Linked DNA regions of Homo sapiens: region 1 is linked to region 2. The links come from fine-mapping of genetic effects on gene expression. A gene starts in region 2. The other region holds a variant in brackets. All regions are shown on one strand. Distances are between the middles of the regions.

Region 1 (5,000 bases), 31 kb after region 2:
TTCAAGCATCCCTTCCACATTCTTGTTAACCCACCAAGGTAATTTGTTATTAATACACTAAGAGTATAGTGTGAATTAGTTTGAAGGTTTTCCTTTCTGTGATGTAAGGGTTTGTCCTGAAAAGCTAAATGGACTTGTATAAAGCATGGGGAGGTTTTCTTAAAAAAGAAAAGAGATAAGCTTTAAAAGTGAGGCTGTTTATGCTTCATAATTTCACCCCCTTTCTTTACTATCACCCAACTGCAGGTCAGTCAGCAAAGACTTCATCCCTAAAATCCGGGTTCCCAAGGAAAGAACTCAATTACAATTTGCCCTTGAGGATGTCAAGATCGATACTGCAACCTGGATGTTCATCTCTGACTATCCCTACTAAACCACCACTCTCTTTTCCTCTCCATGTATGACCCATTTTATTTACCTCCCTTGAACTTTCTCCCATGTTAACATTTTATAAAGATGGGGAAAGATTTACCCAGGGAAACTCTTGCAGGAACAGCTCTTCGGTCAATCCAAAATGAAACCCATGAAAGCATCACCATCAATATGGCTGGGAAATAGGTTTGCAGCACAAAGAAGAAAACATGCCTCCTTAGCACAAAGTTGATGAAAAGCCTATTGTACCAACCTGTGGAAAAAAGCCAAAGTTTTCATTAGAGCAAGCTTCCCCTTAGAAACACTGCACTTAGTGAAATGACCTGCTTCTTTAGACTCCAAGCTCTTGGGGACACGGAATTTGACAAACTCATCTCCATTTAGTTGGGCCTGGCACTCCATCAACATTTGTTCAACCAGCTGAACTGCAGTCTGCTTAATTATTTGACTCAAAGATCCCCTTTAACTTCCAAACCCGCAGTTCAGGGATGAATAGTGGTTATCTTTTGTGGGATGGCCTCTAAAGATCTGTCTCCACAATATATTGTATTGTGGCGTTTCTGCAAGAGGGAAAGTCTTCAATACATGACTAATAATGGCATAAAAGAACCAATAAACCATTTATTAGCTATAACAAATGAAAAAAACATTTAACTGAATGAAAAGATTCAGAGTATGTACTAGGTCATTGGATTTTGACCTGAGATGGAGACAGCTGGGGATTCAAAGGAGAAAGAAAACAGCATCCATAAGCTAGTTTTACAATTTTAAAGTCTCACAAGTACCATAATTTGTGCATGATGAATCTGCAAAAAAGTAACCAACTGATGTTTCTTTGCTTCCTATTGAAATTATATAAACTCACGTTGGTAATATTAACTGCGCTAATTAAAAGCACCATTTGTGGTGACATCCACACACACATTTTGTTCAGGTTTACCTCTCCCATTGACTACAAGGAAGTTTAAAGCCAAATTTTCAGACATCTACAGGACTTCTCTGAGCACCATTCTTTAATGACCACATACACATACCAGGATATATATAATACCTTATCCTTGTTTTTCTTTTTTTTCTCATACATTTCTAATTTATATTACCTTGCTTTATTTCACAATAACTATGTGCTAATCTTGTTAAATCTTTACTAAAATAAGGCAATACATGAGGAAACATGGAAATACATCTTTTCTGAATAAGTAGCAAGATTTTTTTTCTATGATAAATGCTGTTTATTTTCAAATAACATTATTCAAAACACAGGGACTATAGGTCAAAAGTTATAAAATAAAAATCATAGGTATTGCAGAGTTGGAAAACCCTTCTGCTAGTCTCAGCAGTAATTTCTTAGAAACCCAAGACGGCAAACCTATTAGATGGATCACTTAAGTACTTAGGCATTTGGCCTAAGAAATACACCTGGCCAACCCACACTGAACTGGCAGACTCTACTCTTAGAATCCTATTCTCAATGAAATACTCATTATCTTTTTCTTCCTTACCTAGTTCTAAGCTTCTAACAGTCAGTTTATATATGTTCAGGAATACCAAACAATTTTATTACCAGGAGTAATAAAATATACATCACATAGTACATTATAAAGTTAAAATATAAATTATTTTTAAGCTTCTCATTGTCTTGTATCACCTACATCACAGCCCCAATTTATTACTGTGTACCACTGAGAGTTTCAGTGATGGCTGTAGAGTACAATAACAGCTTTCTGACCTTACAACTTTATATAACTACTGTGAGGTTAAAAGAAATAAGGAAAACCTGTGAAAGAAATTCAAAAGAAAGACAGTATTAAGGTATATAGTTTTCTGTTCATTATTAACTTGAAATAAAATTAGTTAACTGCATCCTTTCTTTATTCATAATTTTCTGAAGAACAGTTGTCCTTTTTTTTTTTTTTTGGTGGGGTGGGGGCAGGGTGGAGTAACCAGGAAGTCAAACTGTGGCTCTGTCTTG[T/C]GGTTTTAGACTAGGGGTGGTATTTTAGTTGAACCTGCAGGTCATGGGGAGTCCATTTCCCTATCAGGAAAGGTGGTGCTGCCTTGGAACGTTGTGAAGCCTTCATTTTGGGTAGTACAATAAAAAGTCTGATTCTATTTTTGATGTTTGACTGCTAAAAGCTCTCAAGCCCAACTTCTCCTTCTGCCCTACATCTGAGCAAGTTAATAAAAAGCCTAGGTCTCTTTTTGGCACCTGTGAAAAGTTCAAACCATGCATCTTGTCCTACGACAGGCAGCCTTCACCCTAGCTGCACCCCCTAGCTACCATAAAAACCCAAGCCAGTAGCCCCTTCCTGTTTTCTCAAGCCATTTTTCATTTCAGACCTGCTTGGGAGCCTGCCCATCTCTCTCTAGAAAGCCTCATTATGTAAGTAATAAATCACTTCATACCCTTTTGTCATGTGTATGGCATCATCAGTTTTGGCATCTGAACTAAATTTTGGATGGGGACGGGTACATCTGCCTCCATTAGTTTGCCATACAGTAGAAAGAAGAGGAGTTAATAACAGAGAGAAAAAGGCTAGAGAGTTGGCACCCAGGGAAATGGAGGACTGGGCCAGTATTTGGGGAGTCAGTCCCAAGACAAGAATAAAGAAGGTTTTTATACCTAGAGACAGTCACCTTCAATGGCCCTTTGAAAGTAGGCCTTAATACTCTCTATGAAAAGGATCAAAATAATGTGGATGAAAATAGGGTGATGATGACAGCTACTAACTAATATTTATTGAGCCTCTATTATATGGCAGATAACATTCTAAGGTACTTAACTATATGACATCATGTATCCTCACAACCCTATGATATAGAGAGTATTATGAAACCCATTTAAAGATGAGAAAGTTAAGGGTTAGAGAGATTAAGCAACTTGTCCAAGGTCAGGTTGCTAATAAATGATAGAGACAGGGTTTGAACTTAGGCAGTCTGTTTCTACTACTTACACATTCAGCCATTAGATTATGCTATGATAAAGAATAATTATTCAATGCATCCCTTAGGGGCAGGAGTCATTTCTTTTTTCTTTGTAAATTTATAGTGCATGATTTTGAGAATTTTGAGAAAGGGATCAGGAGGCAGAAGCCCTCATCTGCTTGTTAATATTGCCAGGTCGTGGTGATTTTTGAACAGTGGCAACGGTAGTGGTGAAGGCCAAGAAAAAAAAAAAAACACCCTGTTGTTCAGCTGTAAAATGGAAACTAAGGTCCTATAACTATATTTCTGACTCTTATAGCCAGAGTCAGATGTATAGTTTTTCTATACACCTGGGAGTGGTGGTTGTGGCTGGTAGTTGTAAGGATAGGAGTGAAGAAAACAAATCAAAAATTATTTTTGAGGAAGCTAAAATATTTAAACAGGAAACTAGTCTGAAAAAGACACTTGAGTTTGTCAGAAGATTATGTTTAATGATTCGTGGATAATGTGAGGCAGAGCTATCACATGCTCATGAACTAAAATAAGTTTCTAAATGTAATCTTTCCGAAACCTAACTAAGGGATGGTTAAATGAACCCAGATATGATTATTGATTTGATATTTGAATACAACTTCCAAAATGCCTCCCTTCGGCATTTTTCCTACCAATCTCTGTCATTAAAAAAAATGGGTATATTGTAACAAATTAAAAAATACAAGTGTTTTTTGTACCTACTTCTCAGAGGTATCTATTGTTAATCTTTCTAGGCTTTTAACACACACACACACACACACACACACACACACGATATGCACAGATATGTATATAAGCACTCATGCACTCATAAATATGTATACATACATTCTTCAATAACAAATATGGGATTTTTAAAATATATTCTTCCGTAACTTGCTTTTAAAGAATATTAATGTATTATGGATAAGTCTCCTTCTCATGTTACACAAAGCATGTACATTTGAACCTAATTCTAATTTTTTTTCATTTTTCTTAGGAACCAAAATGATATTTCTTAAAAATGTAACTACCTTTGAACGTTAAAGATTTGTAAGTTCATTTTAAAATGCAAGCATCTTTGTAAGCAGTAAGTTTTTCCATGCCAGTATTTTCCTGGCTTTAGAGAGATTCTAAAACATGACCAGAAAAAGATATAAATCAGCTAGTGTTGTAGCTGCCTGGTAGGGCTCAAAAAGTCTGACAAGCACAAATAAAATTATGGTAGAGCAAATGGAATGATTTAGTGGTAAAGTTAGAATTTTGAAGTGAAATTTAACTTCCTGTTAGGAGGACGGTTGGATATATGTTAATGGATAGTTGTGCTTCAAAAGCTAAAGAAATGCCATAATTATTGTATATTTTGCATATGTTCTGTGCATGAGACAATTCTTTTTGATTTCTATGCTTCATATATATTACATTATATTAGCATTAAATGTTGCAAATATCTATTTACAATTTATCATATGCCAAAGTTATTTTTCATTTTAGCAATAGTAAAATGAAAACACATCCTATAAATTATACTTCACATATACCATGCTTCATTGCATACATTCTTTTATTTAAATATTAATTTAATTTAGGATTAAGTAAGAACATTAAAAATCCTGATAAATATATGCCTATATTTATTCATATAGAGAAAGACAAACCGAGAAAAGGAGGAGAAGAAGGAGGAGCAGAAAAAT
Region 2 (5,536 bases):
AGGTTGGCAACATTTCACAAGTGTTGACACAACTAGTTGCTGGAGCAACTGAGCACAGCCAGTGTGACCGCTCGAAGACCCTTGGAGCCTTGCACTTGGTATCCCCAGAACTTCACCCATGTGCCTCTTCCCTTTGCTGACTGTGCTTGATATCTTTTCCCTGTAATAAATCAGCCGAGTCCTCCTAGCAAATTGCTGAACTAAAGATGGCCTTGGGGACCACAGCACATTGCTCACGTTTAATTTTTAAAAACTTAGATTGGTTTATTAGGTTTGTATTACTAAAGGCACCCTATAGAGTCATTTTATATTCAGCCACACATCTCTTATCTCTCACAATTGGTCAGTTTAAAATTCATTTAAGGGGAGAGAGCAGGAGGAAGATGCAAACGAAAAGCTTTTCTTTAAGCATAATATATGAATACAGTATAAGCACATTCACCAGAAAGTGTGGCTAATCAAAGAATGCAAAACACTTAAGCCAAAATAAAATCACTTAAAAGAATCTTTCCCATCTACAATCACTAACAAACCCCAATACTGTATAACAAATGCTTTCCTTAGAATATAAATTTCACTACCCATACTGCCAAAAGTTACATCATTTGTTTCTCTGTGTTCATGTTGAAATGATTTGAGGCTCAGTTAATTGGAGCCTAAGCTTAGAGGTTTCTGGGCAAATACATTATTTCTCTGATTCTCACACTACTCATACTGTAAGACAACCATTCCTCTTAACAGCTTTCTAGAGCAGAGGGGAGAATAGATGAAGCATCCTACCACATTAAACATACAAAAGTCTTAAGGTACATATCATAATTTCGGAAACAGCAAGAAGTAAAACACATATCTTAGAATCCAATACTATAGTAATTAAAGAAGACAATGCTTTGTCTAGAATAGTACAGCCAACACAACCTTGCCCATAAGCCTTAGAGACCACCCCAATAGGAGTAAATATTTCTGTAAAATCACAGAAAAGTTTTTGAAGAGCAATTGTTTTCCATTTGAGTTGACTATAAGCATTAAATGTAAAAAGACTAAAAGATTTACAGTTCATACTTTGGTGACTACCCCACAGATAAACCCTATAAGAAAATCAATGTTGACAACCATACTATAGGCAACAGACAGACAGTCACTATATTTTAAAGGTACCCTAACCTCCTTTTCTATAATATTTGAGGACATGAAGACGTGAGGAAGCTCTTGAAGGAAAGGATTTGTATATCCCCGGAAACAAGCACGGTGTGGTACATAGGAGGTCCTCAAGAAATGTCTGCTGAATTTTTCACATTTTCATCTTTTGTCTGTATACAATTTTGGAGACAAACCACAAAGGCCTTACACAAAACAGTTACGGAAAAAACAGATGGCCTGTGCAGAGGGGATTATTTTTCTGATTGCAGCTGTCACTTCAGGATTCAAGAGTATCGTAAAAGCTAAAAGGCACTTTAGACATCAGTAGTTATTACTAAATCGGGGAGGGAAGTATGAATTTCTACATCCCCTGGGCAGTTTTACAGAATGTAGTTCAGAGTTACCAGCAAGGTTGTTAGCATGCAAATTTCTGGGCCCTCATCAAGCCCACTGGATTGCCACTTCTGATGGCTGAGGCCCATAATCTGCATTAACGTAATACGCTCTCTAGATGAATTTTAGGTCCACTAATGGAGGACAACAGTCAAACGCAGCTCAGTTAAACACACGGCTGTCAGAAATTATATATTGCTTGTAACAAGGTTGCCCAGACTGATCTAAAACATTTCTTTTTGGCTCAGAGATATGTTAATCAATCCAGAGGGAAAACTGGTTCTCCTATTGACCTAAAGGAGTGATCAGCAGTTATCTTTTTAGTCTGATTTTAGAGAGGAAACGGACTATACCTCAATGTATTTTCGTGACCATGAGGTTACAAAGCTTGATGTCCAGGAGGCAAAAACCAGTACCAGCAGAAGAAGCTGAGTAAATCAGGTTCCTCTGCTCAAAGATGAGCCCAGTGACATGAAACCCGAGGCACCAGATTTACAGCTAATGAGTGGCGAAATCAGATCCTCTTCCTCCCAGTCTATCCTTCCTGAAAACAGTGAATAACCTGGTCTCAGTAACCTGTTGGACAACCCAGCTGTCGGCCAATCGTTGCGGAATTATTTGCTGGTAAATGAATTGGAAGCATATGATGTAATGCAGCTGCCCTTCTCCCCACACACCTGAACTTCAGATTTCACAGCTGTAGAGCGTGTCTCTTAGGCCCGACATGACGCCCGGCGGCGCAGCCCACGTGGAAGCCGTGCTCGCACAGGCAGTTCTGCCACCACCGGGCGGAGGCCGGCACCACCCTCCTTGCTAAGCCTCCAAACTTTCCGTGCGCTCGTCACCGGTGTCGCGACCATTAGCAGGCCACGTGTGCGACTCTCTGTAACCAAGGCTTCCGCGACCCTACCCCTAGATCCGGGCCCCACCCACCCTGCCCCAGTCTCCGGGGAGGTGGGACGCCTGGGAGCGCGTCCCAGGTCCCGCAACCACAGCGCCGGCCACCGAGGCTTCTCGCCGACCGACAGGTCTCCCAGACCCGCACCCGAGCCCGGGTGCCTAAAGCAGCAGCGCGCGCCCCGCGGGATCGGGCACTACCCGGCCTGCCCCGGCGCTGGGATGCCCACGAGAGCGCCCCACTCACCCGGCACGGCCTGTTGCTCGCGGCCGCGAGCCCACTGCGTTGCGGCGCAGCGGCTGGAGGCGGGGCAGCGTGGGCACGCTCCGGGCCGTGCTCCAGCCCCCGCCCCGCCCCGCCACGCCGGCCCGCAAGTGGTGGCAGCCCGGAGGCCTGGCTACCCGGCGGTGTTCCGCGTTCACGCCCGGGCGTTTCTTTAGTCCATATGGAAGGAAATAAATGGCCTTTTTTTTCCTCTTTTTTTTTTTTTTTTTTTTTTTTTTTTTTTTTTTATGGTATGTGAGACAAGGTCTCACTCTCGCCCAGGCTGGAGTGCAGTGGTAGCGATCTTGGCTCACTGCAACCTTTACCTCCCGGGCTCAAGCGATCCTCCTGCCTCGGCCTCCCAAAGTGCTGGATTATAGGTGTGAGCCACCCACCCGGCTCTCCTTTTTTTTCTTTTAACTTGGGGCGGCAGGAGAGGATTTGAGAGAGCGTTTTGGTGCAACTCCGTTCCTTTTATGAATAGAGAAGCAGGCCTGAAGAGGAATACCAGCGGTGCAAGTTTAGGGAGTTGGTGGTCCGGGTTCTCCCATGGCTTTCTTATGGGCTGTGTGGCTACACAATGCTGATTTGTACAAGCCGAGTGTCATTTATATCATCTCGCTCCGGGAGAGAGAGTCAATCCTAGTTTTAAAAGATACTGGAAATTCGTTGCGACTATGGCTATAGAAACAGAAGAAATGCAGTTATCTGAGTCCTTTCAGCCTAACACTCCCTGCTTTGGAACATTTGGTTCCAGTCAGGAGGCACAAATGAGGGAGCAGGGAAATCAGTGGCGGGCCTGTGCCTTTCTTTGCTCTGTAGACAGCCAGAGGACCCAGAGGAAGTCGACATTTCGTTCCGTCAAGGTGACTGAGACCAGTGGCTGCTTCTAAGGATCAAGTGGCACATGAACAAATGGGAACAAAGTACACCCTTGTCTAGTATTTGTCTAAAACTAACAATAATAGCAAGTCTTGAATTGAGTTCTTCCTGGCTATAAGGCACCACGCTAGGTGTTTCAAATACTCCTCACTTCATCCTCACTACAACCTTGCAATTACCTCCATTTTACAGTTGAGGAAACTGAGTCAGGAGAGGTTAACTAACTTGCACAAGATCACACAGCTAGGAAGATGCAGAAACAAGATTAGAGCCAAACCAGTCAGTCAACTGTTGGTCTTTTTCACGTTTTACTAATACTCGTATAACTAGTAAGTTTCCTGGCAGGTTCCAGTTGGAAAAACTCGAGGGTAACATCAAATTTAGCCCTTACAGGGTAAAAAAGAATAGTCAACAGCAAAAATCTCTAGTTGATATGATATTGGTAATGTACTTCGCTCTTTATTTTGACTGCAAGACATCTACTCAAGATAATATAGAATAATATTGCTGTTCCCGGGATTCAGATAAAGGTAAATTCTCACACGTCCACCACTTGGAAAAGCAGTACGGTTGTAGAAAAAAGTTATAATGTCAACACAAAATACCATTTTCTCAGCATATAAAATGGCCGCAGGATGTCTAACAGAACAAAAGTACATATGGAAGTCAGCTTTGCAGGGGGAAATCATACATCTTGTGTAGGAGTTCCTCTAATGCAAAATTAGTATATCAGTATGTTCTCTCTGATTTTTTTCATTATAATTCCGATTTCTTAGCATAGCAAGCAAAAAAGTCATGATAGTTCCATTTTCAGACCTAAACAGTGCCCATCATTCCTGTGAAGAAAAGGAGAAGGGGCCAGGTGCGGTAGCTCACGCCTATAATCCCAGGACTTTGGGAGGCTGACGCCGGTGGATCACCCGAGGTCAGGAGTTCAAGACCACCCTGGCCAACATGGTGAAACCCCCGTCTCTAACAAAAATACAAAAAAATTACTCAAGCATGGTGGTGCCTGCCTGTAATCCCAGCTACTCAGGAGGCTGAGGCAGGAGAATTGGTTGAACCAGGGAGGCGGGGTTGCAGTGAGCTGAGATTGCACCACTGCACTCCAGCTTGGGCAACAAGAGCAAAACTCTGTTTCGGAAAAGAAAAAGAAAAAGAGAAGGAAAGTTAGTTTGTGCTTGGGTGACAAGAGCGAAATTCCGTCTAAAGGAAGGAAAGAAGGAAGGGGCGGGGAGGGAGGGAGGAAGGGGGAGGGAGGGAAGGAGGTAGGGGAGGAAGTAAGGGTGTGGTGGGATGGTATGGGAGTGGAGAATGGCTTGCAACCTTGCCTGAGAGGAGGAAGAGGAGGTGAGGAAGTAAGGGTGGCATGGGATGGGAGTGGAGAATGGTCTGCAACCTTGCCTGGGAGGCTTCTAGAATATATGGCCTTCCTACATGTATTGTTTCTGGTATTTTTTTTTTTTTTGGAAAAGTTCTTCCAGAGGACAAGATGCAGACTGCTATCCAGTCCCCACCATAGGTTCATTTAAAAGTCAGTTATTTTGTTTCTGTAATTAATTTTCTCATGAAAACAATGTTGTAGATGGCAGCTCTCAAGATCTGTCCGGAAAAGTCTAGAAGCCTCCAGATTTCTAATCAACAGACTAGCGCTCCTCCTCTGTAACTGAGGAACAAGATGCCAAGGAGACAGGAGAAAGAAGAGAATTCCCTTCATGTCTCGGCCATAAACCCTGAAACAGACTTGTCCATGAGCCTTGTAAAATAAGTTACATTTCTGCAGAGGTGCTTGACGTTCACACCGTTTGGATTGCTTTATTAAAAGACTCTTTTTAGAGCCAAGTTTGTCTTCCTCTTCTGTGGTCTCCTAGGCTCTTCTTCCTGTAGAGCTTTTGGTTTTTAGCCACCTCATTGTGGCTGTGCACCTGTCCAGCCTGGGCATCAGGCTGCAAAAGTGCA

What was found.
Region 1: its variant is fine-mapped to the expression of RIOX2 in whole blood (TOPMed, PIP above 0.99).

Annotation. Positions count from the first base shown.
Region 1 is chr3:98,001,143-98,006,142 of GRCh38, forward strand. GABRR3 (gamma-aminobutyric acid type A receptor subunit rho3) reads right to left here. Exons shown (of 10, transcript NM_001105580.3): 8 at 473-625. Among named protein-coding and RNA genes, the nearest start is that of RIOX2, 31 kb to the left of the region's middle. The variant T/C (reference allele first, on the strand shown) is at 2,345.
Region 2 is chr3:97,969,704-97,975,239 of GRCh38, forward strand. RIOX2 (ribosomal oxygenase 2) reads right to left here and starts at 2,728. Exons shown (of 10, transcript NM_153182.4): 1 at 2,678-2,728. It overlaps LOC124909398 (a long non-coding RNA gene), which reads left to right and starts at 2,950. Exons shown (of 2, transcript XR_007095976.1): 1 at 2,950-4,107; 2 at 5,163-5,419. RefSeq lists an enhancer at 1,943-2,202 and a silencer at 2,473-2,912.